3 linked regions of the Homo sapiens genome follow. The protein of the gene in region 2 interacts with the protein of the main gene of each other region in a pairwise test. Each region holds a gene or a part of one and is shown on either strand. Other genes may lie near its edges.

Region 1 (3,747 bases), on a different chromosome or scaffold from region 2:
AACCCTAAGGACACAACCCCACACCCTCCCACAGACCCCAGTGCTGGCCCCCTGGGACAGCATGGGCCTGGGAGTAGACCACTAACCTGGTGCTGGGAGAGCATGCATGCATTTACTTCCTTCAAGGGCGTGCCTGTTCCATCCGCCCTCTGGGCTCTCGCTCCTCACTGCCCCCTGGGGGTCTCTCTCTCTCTGGCTTCACCTGCTACCAGCATTTCCCCAAGGAGGAAAGTTGTCAAGTCGGCCACCAGCAGACAACTGGGGAGGAAGAAGCCAACCATCCCTGAGGCCCAAGGGACTCACACCGGGGAATGCTGACCTGGGAGGGCCCAAGGGAAAGTCTTCAGCAAACACTCCCAAGGCCTGCTAGGGCCTGCTGGGCAGTGCCATGGGGGATGCAGGCCCTCCTCTCCTCCCCAGGCACAGCCAAGAGGAAAGGAGCAGACAGGACAGAAGCCAGCCTCTAGGACCAGCACACAGCCAGAGGGAAGCCATCCGCTGCCCCTCCTAGGGCCCTAGGCCTGTTTGACTCATTTCTTCCCCCAGCTCCTTTCCAAGCAGCTTTCTGTCACCTCTACGGTGGCTGGGCAACTCCCTGGCTGAGGCGAGCACCAGCTGCAGGAACCTCGACATCTGGCTAAGCAGACAGGAGCAGGGGAAGCAAGGGGTCCGGGTTGGCCTGCAAAGACCAGACGTCAGGTACCTAGAGACCTCAGTGAAACCCCTCCCACCAAGAACAACCTCACCCACTGCCATTCACTGAACACCTCCTGCTTACCAGGCATGTGACCTCATTTAATCCTCACATTTAATCTCCGAAAAGGAGGGCCTAGTATCATCCTCACAACCATTCATCCAGGAGGCGACAGCTGGGATGTAAAAACCAGGTGTGTCTGAGTTGTGACTTTGACATGGGTCTCTAAGTAACTCAAATCCTGTATCTCAGCCTGGAGGCAATGGGGTGTCAGGGAAGGCTTCCTAGAGGAGGTGACACCTGCACCGGATCTCTTAGGATGATAAAATGAATCCAGCCAGTGAGGGAGCAGGGTGTCCGGCAGGAGGAATAGCACACACAAAGGCCTGGAGGTGAGAAGCAGCAGGAGGGTGAGAGTGTGGCAGAAGCTAATTTGGTGTCACAGGCTCACAGGAAGAGGCGGGAAGAGGTTGCAGGGAAGTGGGTAACAGGAGCAGGTCACAGAGGGCCAAATACAGAGGAGTCTACACTGACTTTATTCTCTGGATAGTTGGGAGCCCCAGGAGGACTCTGGATGGTGGAGTTGCCCGGTCAGGTGAAGACGGGGAGGTTCAGAAAGGAGCCACACTGTCGTCAGATGGCTCCATCCACGAAGGAGATGAGGCTGGGTCCAGTGTCAGGAGCACACGTCCAGGCCGCACACTGAGGGCCAGATGCGGGCTACAGCACAGGCAGGGAGCTGTGGCCGAGCTTTAATTATTTATGAGGCTGTTTCCCAGCAAGACTCAGCACTCCTGCAGCCTGGCCTTGCCCAGCTAATGAACTCTCAGCCATGGGAGACCTCCCTGTGGCCACTCTTTATTAAACCTGGGATGGAGGGGTGATGGGTGCTGGGATAACAAAAGAGTCCAAAGAAGCCTGAACAAAGTCGAGGTCAGTGAGCACAAAACTGGTCCACCTGTCTACCCAGCCTTTCCGCGAGAAGCACAGAACTTCCTAGAGGAGGAAGCGAGGTGGAGTAGCCTTAAGATGTCATCTCAAGACAGGGAAATGAAGGCCTGGGAAGGACCTACCTAAGTCACCAGCCAGTACTTGAGACAGTACAAGTTCCATAGCTGGTCACCCGCATTCACACCCCAGCAGTTCTACACCCTTGGGCCAGTTACGTAACCCGTCTGTGCCTCGATGAGATAGGACTATTTCAGGTACTTCATAGTGTTGCCCCATTTTATAGAATAGAGGAACGAGGGGCGATGTGTGGACAATCTCAGCACGATGCCCGGTCCACAGCAAGTGCCCAGACAGCGTTCATCGGCGCTATGGTTACTGTTGTGACTCTGGGAGTAAAGGCCAGGCCAGAGACCGGAATCTCTGCCTCTGCCCCCAGACACTAGGGAGCAACAGGAAACTGAGGCCCAGGGGCCAGCTGGCCTACGTGACCCAGGCCCACAGCCAGGAATCCCACCCGACTTCCCCTGGCTGGGCTTCCTTGGGCCTGGCTCTCTAGCTTCCAGCTCCTTCCTCCACTTTGAAGGTTCTTTGAGCTGAGAACTAAAGCCCCAGGAGCTTTTCCCTCTTCCATCCCGCAAGCTCCATCTGTGTCTCCAAAGAGCCAAGTCCCAGCCACTGTGGATGAGGCTCGGGACTTAGAAGGCCTCAGTTTGAGTTCCAGCTCCAACCCTGAGGAGCTCTGTGACTTTGGGGGAGTCACTTCACCTCTCCAAGCCTATGTCCTCTATAATATAGGAACAATACCACCTGTTTTTAAATGGTAAACTCTGGGGGAATGCTATTAGTTACCATCTTTCAGGCCTAGTTCAGCAGTCTCCTCCTCCAGGAAGCCTTTCTTGGCTTCCTTAAAAGTTCCCTCCTTCCAGCCTCTTGGTATTCAGGGGCTGCATTCTGGCCCCTTTGGGAACTTGGACTCATTTTGCCTCACGCAGACTCTATCTACAAATTCCAACCCCCATTTTGCAGGCCCAGAGATGTACAAAGGTGGGGCAGCTCAAGCCCTCTTGCAGGGTGGTGTGCCAAAGAGGGTGGTCAGGGGTAAGGCACGGAGACTGCTCAGGGAGGAGCAGATTTTGTTATCCCAGCACCTATCACCCCTCCATCCCAGGTTTAATAAAGAGCTCCTCAGGGACGAGCCAACAGCTCTCTCTCCTGCAGGGAGAACAGTTCAAAGAAATTCAGTCTGGGCAGGTGGCCTAGAATGCGGGAAGGGCTGAGGAAAGAACATTTTCCAGCACCTGGCCCCAACACAGCCACGTAAGCCCCACTCCGTTTCTTCAGTTTCCCTTTATGGCTACCAGGAGTCCGTTTCTAAAGGCCGTGGAGGTGGGAACACTCATCCATCCGTTCCCTTCTTGCCAGCCCTGTGTGTCTATGTGCACAGCCAGCGTTGGAGGGACAGCTGCCCCTGTTTGGCAGATGAGGAAACAAGCTCAGAAAAGCCAAGCCATGTGTGATTACTACTTGGTACTATCAGCAGCGCCGCCACCCTTTCCACTCCAAGCTTGACGTCATTCACTTTTGTTTAATAACTCCCTGCCTATGACTCTACCCCATGCATCTCAGAGCCATGCAGGAGCCCAGCTTGGCCATTGGAGCTCTCTTGGCCCACCTGAGCGTCACTCAGCACCCAGCTACTTTACTCCTCCATCTCGTCCAAAGCCTCACATGGAGCTGAAACGCACCAGGCCTAACATTTAAAGCCCGTCTTTCCAGCTCCTAGATCACACTCCTGGTGCTTTCCGCACCACACTCCCCACCTCAGCAGACAGTGCCCTGAACTCGAGGCAGGCAGAGATCCTGACCAAGTTCTGTCATCCTGAGCTGTGTGACCTTGCATAAGTCACTCAACTTCTCTGAGGAGGCATCCTTATCTAGAAAGTAGAATGACAAGAAAATTTCTGCTTTTCACAGCCATCCTCACAAGGACAGTTGTTATAAAGAGCCAGGGAGATAAGGCATAACCAGCCCAGACACGCAGTTTCTATTCCTTGCCTCGTCCTCAGTACTCCCACTCTAAGGAGACCACAGAACAACTCCCA
Region 2 (3,747 bases):
TATATACACATACATACACACATATATACGTACACATACACACACACACACACACATATACACACAGTTATGCATCGCTTAATGGCAGGGATGTGTTCTGAGAAATTTGTCATTAGGCAATTTCATCATTGTGCAAACATCATAGAGCATACTTTATACAAACCTACTCCACACCTTGGCTATAGGTTACAGGCCATTGCTCCCAGGCTACACACCTGGGCAGCATGTTACCACGCTGAATACTGTGGGCAACTGTAACACAAGTATCTATCTAAACATAGAAAAGGCACAGTAAAAATATGGTATAAAAGATAAAACATGGGCCAGGCGTGGTGGCTCACGCCTGTAATCCCAGCACCTTGGGAGGCCGAGGTGGGCGGATCATGAGGTCAGGAGGTCGAGACCATCTTGGCTAACACAGTGAAACCCCGTCTCTACTAAAAATCCAAAAAAATTAACCAGGCGTGGTGGCAGGTGCCTGTAGTCCCAGCTACTCGGTAGGCTGAGGCAGGAGAATGGCATGAACCCGTGAGGCAGAGCTTGCCGTGAGCTGAGATTGAGCCACTGCACTCCAGCCTGGGTGACAGGGCGAGACTCCGTCTCAAAAAAACATATATATATATTATATATAACACAGTACCCCATCTAGGACACTAACCATGAATGGAGCTTGCAAGACTGGAAATTTCTCTGGGTGAGTCCATCTGTACACTAGCGTAGACTTTATAAATATTGTACACTTAGGCTACATTAAATTTTTTTAAAAAATAAAGTAACTGCACTACAACTTTACGACAATGTCACTAAGCAATAGGAATTTTTCAGCTCCATAATAATCTTATGGGACCTCTGTCATATATGCTATCATTCCCCAAAACACTGTCATGTGACGCATGACTGTACACATATATCTCAACTGAAAATGCCAAATGTCAATAGTGTTCTCCGACTCACTATTTACTAATGAGAGTTTCCTCAGAACTGTCCTTGCCTGAGAGTTTCAGAACCAAGCATCTCTCTGCGCAGTTGATTCTAGGGACAACAAGTGCTAAGAATCCATGTTGGCTTCAAGTGCAAAACGGAAAACACCTTCATGTCCCACCAACCATGTCAGCCACCTTCCTGGAGGGCAAGCTCCCAGACCCTCTCCCCATCCCTGTGAAGGGCCCATGTCATCTGTGGCATTTCCATGACTCTCTGATGCCAGCCATCAGTCTCTCGGCACGTGTTGAAAATTAGCCTCTGTACTTGCCCACCAGTGGTCACGAGTCCTAGTCATGCCCACCCCGTGAAAAACAAATCTGATACAAAATGGGCCCCAGCAGGAGACAGGGAGAAAACATGGGCCTCACACTCTCTCCAGCTCAGGCTCAAAGGCCAGCACTGCCCCGTCACAGCAGAGTGTTCTTAGGCAACCCACAGCTCAGCTACCTGTCCCCAGCCTCCTTGTTGCAAAGTTAAGACAAGACGTGCCTTCCAGATTTGTCGGGAAATTATTTAAAATGACAAACAAAGAAGGATGAAACTCAACACACAGAATTGCCCAATGATGTGCATTTCATTCCAGTGGTTTCGCCATCAAAACCATCTTCAAATGTTGGAGTGTTTCCGTTTCCAGAAAACTAGAGATGAAAATATTTTCAGTCACTCAATGCAGGAAGTTCAACCACATATTTTTTTTCTCTTAACTTTGATCCTTGAAACACAAAACAACAGACATAGCACCTTATATTAAAACAGCCCCTTAGAGTTTATGACGTGCCTCCTCTGCATTCTCTCACTAGGCCGTAGCTGTAACTCACAAACCTGACCCTTAAAACTCTCAGGACAGTAAGAGAAGCCACACAGGCCCAAGGCTACGTGGCCACACCAAATGACTTGCTGTCATAAAATATCTTGCATCAGTTAAATATTGCATCTCATTTGTGCCTCAAAACAACCGCAGGCAAGAGGCCTCGTGCGTGTATTGCAGATGCTGAGAAAGACTCTCAAGCCAGGTGACTGGCCCTGGGCCCCAGGGATTAGTGGCAGGGCCAGGCTGGAACTGAGCTCCTGTTACTCCAAATCCCATCCTCTTTTCCAACCTCCCAGTCCCTTTCTCATAAAACTAAAGCATCTCCTCCAACTAGGCCAGGACACAGGCAAGAGACAGTCAGGCAGGCGGAGGCTTCTGGAAGGTAAAGCAGAGTGGCTGGGAGCCCTGGGACAGAGTCTGACATTACATACAAGACAAGTTTGGAAAGATCCAGATGGAGTGGGAAGGGAATCTGGGCGTGGGGGTGCCTCCTTCCAAAGTGCATCCACATCCGAGGTGACTGCAGGGAGACACAGAGCTGACTTTGGCAGCAGGGACCGCCTGGGTGCAGAGAACCCAAACAACTGAAAATCCAAAAAGGAATCTTAGTGCAGAATCAGAAAGCTCACTCTTTGGGCTGCTTACCTTCCCAAACACATTCTCCTCTGGCCTATGTGAAACTGACGTTGCACTGTACAATTCTACAGCTCTTTCCTGACTGCCCACTGAGTGAGGGTCTGTGCTACATGCCAGGAGGATCCAAATGTGAACACAGCTAGGTTCCAGCTCTGGGACGCGGGAAAAGGAGGCACAGGGAGCAGGACATGTGCTGCAAGGAGACTACTGCTCCCGTGTTTCGTTCACTCACTCATCCAACAACAGCGCTAAGGCTCTGCTGTGTGCCAGGCACTTTTCTAGCTACTGGGGATCCAGAGGTGAACAAAGTCTTTTACAATTGAGTGGTAAGAGACTGACAATAAACAAACAAGTAAATAAATAACACACTGAATGGTGAGTACTAAGGAGAAACACAAAGCAAGGTTAACAAGAGAAACACAAAGCAAGGTTAACAAAGCCAATTTATGTAGGGCTTTCAGGGAGTGGGCAATAAGTGAGGGGCCAGCCATGTGAGCATCTGGGGGTGGCTCATGCCAAGGGGGTGGGAACAGCAGGTGCAAAGGCCCTGAGGCAAGAGTGGCCTGACAAATCTGAGGACCAAGGAATAAGAGGGAAAGAGCCCACATTCAGTTGGGATCTCCAGGATGGACATGCGCCAAGATGACAGGTGGGGATGGGGTGGGGACAACCCAGGGCAGATCTGGGCAGTAAGCCTGTCTGCCTGGAGCCAGGGCAGCCTGGAGGGGCCATTCTTGGGAGCAAGTGGGGGAACTTGAGAAAATCCAGCCGAGTAACGTGGATGTGGAGGGAGCACTGGAAAGCCACTGAAGGCCTGGGCAATGGTGACACACCTGGCCTGGGCCAACTTGCAGAGTCAGGAGTACCCCACAGCCCCCAACCTGGGAAACCTCACAGCCAGCACAGAAATCACAATGCACACAGCAGTGGCACCCCACCAGTACGTAGGGTTCCACAGAGTGAGCCTGGCTGCATGATCTTGAGGTCACCTACCTCCCAGGGCTCCCTTGTGTGTCTGGACAGGGAGAGAGGGGAAGATTGGCTTCAGGGGAGGCGAGAAAAGACGGTGCCCACGACAGCTGACTCAGCCTGTGCCAGCAGGCTGCTCTGAGACACGAGCTGGACCCAACCCAGGCGGTGGGCGGCAGGGGGTTGGGGAGGAACTCTGGGAAACGAAGGAGCCAGAGAAGCCTCCCTGTGGGCACTCGGGCCAACCACCACCCAAGGGAACAAAGAGCACCCCCAGCCCCCGCTGGGCACACAGGCTGCCTCCTGGTGAGCAACCCTCTCAAACTTCACCCCCAGCCCCCACCGGG
Region 3 (3,747 bases), on a different chromosome or scaffold from region 2:
CTTGGGCTTTGTTTTGGCATGTCTGTACCCGGGTTTGATTGTTGTGCTGCAGCGTCGACTGCTCCAACACAGGACTTTGTTCGAGAGGAACTAGGAAGCGAAGGATCTTGAGCTGGGTGCCTGCAAACTCAGGGAGGAAGCGGGTGCACAGAGGTGGGCACTGTTTTGCAGGCACAGAGGACACACTCAAGACTGCACCCACAGGGCAGTGGTCAGAGCCCATCACCTCAGGCAGCAGGAAAGAGGCCTGAAAGGTGTCTATGACCAGGGTCCTGTCCCCCAGCACATAGTCAAGCCGGGAGCCATAGTTGAGATGGCGGGCGCCAGTGACTGCTGACCAGCAGGTGAAGGCCCCCTCCTGCTTTGGTTGGAAGCAGCGGTAGCTATCGATGAAGGGCCCTACATGAGAGGCAGACTGGCACCCCAAGTTACTGAGCAAGCTGTCCATCCACTTGCGCCCTGGGTCCTCTTCAAAGCATTCCTAGGTGAGGAGGAAAGGGGGTTGGAAGAGAGAGAGACAGAACTAGATACCTAGAACTGGAAGGGACTTAGACTAACTGCTGCATTTTGCAAATAAGAAAATTTGGTTGTCCCAAGAGGACTACTGCTCAAGGTCACACAGTCCGGAATTGGCAGAGCTGGGATTCTGATTTTCATCCTTACTGATTTAAAAGACCATGCTTGTTTTTCCCTCTGCACGAGCTTGCATTTGTCTTGCATTGGTCCGTCAATGGCAAATCTGAAAGTTTGCTTACTCAAAGCAATTCCTGGAACTGCTTTTCAAAAGGATGGAAAACAGGAAGTTAAAAGTGTTTGCCTCTAGGAAGCAGGGCTGGGGTTAAGAGTTAGGAAGACTGTCAGCTTCTTCCTTTAAACCCTCTGGCACTATTTGGTTTATCTAGTGTGTCAAAGCCCTCAATGACCATTCCTACCTCCTGAGCTGAGGACCTGCAAGGATCCAGGTCTGAATACTTCCTTAGGCTCTGATCCCCAATCCATCATCCATCAGTCCATCCATTCAATCCACCTACCCACCCACTCATTCAATGCAAGAAATGTTCATGGAATACCTATTATGTGCCATGCATGATGCCAGGGACAAAGTAGGAACCTGATCTACTCCTGGGGACCAAGGAGGCTTCCTTTCGAGAAGTGATCTGGAGCTGAGGTGTGGGGGCTGAGTAAGAGTAACCTAGGTGGAGGGTGCTCCTAACTTTAAGAACAGTCTCTGTGCTGGGCCTGTGGAGGGAGTGTGCTGCGTACCCAAAAGACTTGAGGAAAGACCAGACTGGAGACCAGAATACCAGCAGGAAATGGCTGCCATAGTCACACAAGCAAGATGATGGTCACTTGGACTAGGGTGGGTGCCAGAGGAGACAGAAACATGAAATTATGAGATGATTTGTAGCTAGAATCAACAGTACTTGCTGACTAACTGAATGTGGGAAGTGGAGTAAGAAAGAAAGACAATACTAGCACAATTCCCAGGCTTTAAGTTGAAGCAATCAAGGGGATGATGGTGCCATTTACAGAAATGACAAGACTAAAAGAGCAAGCCTGGTAGAAAGTGGGTATGTTCTGCTATTTTGGAAAGACTGTGTAAGTCATCTGAGCTGGCACTATTAGTTCTCTTTTCCTGGAGGAGAAAATGAAAGAGGTATACATAAGAGATCTAGGATACCTCTGAACTAAGTAGAAAAGGCACAAAGATGTATGATGCTATCACAGGAATCTGAAAGAACACACTGAATGAATGCATAAGAGGAATGAGGCAGGGAGGGACTGAAGGCTCACACTTTGTAGCATTATCTCCGCTCCCCACCACACCACCACCACCATTCTCTCATTCTCTCACTTCTGCTCATTTTCCCAGCTGGGAGCCATATCTACATTTATGTAGCTCTTCTGTGAATTAATCAAGGAATATTCCCACGGTCCCTTCTCTAAGCCAAGCCCAGTGCTGAGTAGGACTGTACCAGCATAAATCACTGATCCCCCATCGTGAGACATAAGGCAAGAAAAGATGAGAGCTGGCTTGTGGATTCTAGGGCAGTGGTTCTCAAGCCTGGCTGCACAATAAAGTCACACTGGGGGCTTTTAGAACGTGCCACTACCCTGGCCCCACACTCGAGAGTTCTGAGTTCATTGATCTGGAGTAGTGCTAAGATATTGATATTTTTGTTCTAATATGCAGTTAGGGGCTGAAAACCATGGGCCTAGGGGAACTTAGAGATAAGAGGTTCATATAACAAAAAGACAGGGAGGGGGTCATGTCCACCAATTCAGGGCACAGTGAGAAAAGCCAGAATGAGAATAACTTTTACAACGGGCCGACAGGAGACAACCTGTCTAGAGAGGACAAAATGTGTAGGGACACTGAAGGTGGAAATAAGAGACAGGTCACAGACCAAGGAGAGCCTTGAATGCTAGGTCTCCATGTTTTCTCTGCATCACAGAGGTAACAGGGAGGTACTGAAAGTTCATAAACAAGAAATACAGTGTATTAAGGAAATGACCAAGGCAATGTGGAATTCACAGTCCTTGAAATCTGACCCCCAACAACTCTCCAGCCCCACCTTCTGCCACTCACCTCCCTTCCTGTGTCACTAAGAAGAAAGGGACTTGTGGTTCCCCATGCACACAATGCAAATTCTCACCTTGAAACCTTTGCCCATGCTAGAATGCTTTCTACTTCAAAGCTCTGTTCTACTCATCTGTTAAGATTCAGCCATTTTCAGCTGCCTGTCCTGATGTCCGAGCTCACCTAGGAATCCCATCTCTGAGCTCCTGTAGCTTTCTGGGATGCCATCTGTGCCTCTGCCCTGAGAATACCATCCTATAATTGGCTAGCCATGTGTCTGTAGCCCACCACCATGCTGGAGAGCTCCTAGGAGCCAAGGGCTGGATCTGACTCCTGAGTCCTCAGTATGTGGCTCAGGGCCAGGCCATGGGCAGAGTCAGTATTGTCTATTGAATGAATGACCAATCCTCAGTACTATAAGAATAGTATTGCAAGCCAAGCTCCGCTTTCCCATAAAGGAAGCTGTCCCTGGGCCAAAAACTCAGGGTTGGTTGGCTGGACAAACAGAATCAGTCAGGAGTGGGGCCAGGCACCTAGAGGGAGCCTTACCAGGTTGACTGCATCCCAGTGGTCAATGGGGCGGTGGGCTGTATTCAGGTCACCCAGAATGATCACATGGCTGAAAAACACAATGTGGGATTGTTAGAAAGGGGTGCAGCAGTCCTGGCCCATATACTTTTTCCTGGGCCCAAGAGCTCAGACAGGCCCTCTCCCATATTGAGGCTTCCTAGCCAACAGCAACTCATAACAGCCTACCTCTCCAATCTTACCACAAACTTGCTGCCTTTCATATCTGACCAACCCAATTCTGATCTCCAAAGGTGACAGTGTTCCATGTTTGACATGACTGCCTCACTAATCAGGAGCCAATGGGCATTTTTCTTGTCCTTCAAAGCTGAGCTCAGATACCACCTCCCCTTGATTGCTCTAACCCACCCTCACTTTCCTGTCCTCCGCTGGAACAAGACTTTCCTTTGCTCCCACGCACTTTACCATTCTCATCTCATTTTACCCTTAAAACTATTGTGTAGGGTAGAGATTCATATATTCATTTGACAAAAGAGAAAACAGAGGCAAGACTAGCCCTAGGGCTCACAATGAGTAAGAGCAGGAGCCTGAATAGGTGCTCAGAGTACAAAACCCATGTTTGTTTTGAGCAGAGCCTA

The links.
Region 1: the proteins of APBA2 (region 2) and LRP8 interact in a two-hybrid assay, tested with the Homo sapiens proteins (one study listed by BioGRID).
Region 3: the proteins of APBA2 (region 2) and APEX2 interact in binary tests that used the Homo sapiens proteins (3 or more experiments, as listed by UniProt).

What each region holds. Positions count from the first base shown.
Region 1 is NC_000001.11:53,321,383-53,325,129, forward strand, and holds part of LRP8 (low-density lipoprotein receptor-related protein 8 isoform 1 precursor), read right to left. Parts: intron 1-3,747. UniProt on the Homo sapiens protein: Cell surface receptor for Reelin (RELN) and apolipoprotein E (apoE)-containing ligands. LRP8 participates in transmitting the extracellular Reelin signal to intracellular signaling processes, by binding to DAB1 on its cytoplasmic tail.
Region 2 is NC_000015.10:28,888,949-28,892,695, reverse strand, and holds part of APBA2 (amyloid-beta A4 precursor protein-binding family A member 2), read right to left. Parts: intron 1-3,747. UniProt on the Homo sapiens protein: Putative function in synaptic vesicle exocytosis by binding to STXBP1, an essential component of the synaptic vesicle exocytotic machinery. May modulate processing of the amyloid-beta precursor protein (APP) and hence formation of APP-beta.
Region 3 is NC_000023.11:55,003,252-55,006,998, reverse strand, and holds part of APEX2 (DNA-(apurinic or apyrimidinic site) endonuclease 2), read right to left. Parts: intron 3,201-3,747; coding exon 3,131-3,200; intron 482-3,130; coding exon 1-481. UniProt on the Homo sapiens protein: Functions as a weak apurinic/apyrimidinic (AP) endodeoxyribonuclease in the DNA base excision repair (BER) pathway of DNA lesions induced by oxidative and alkylating agents.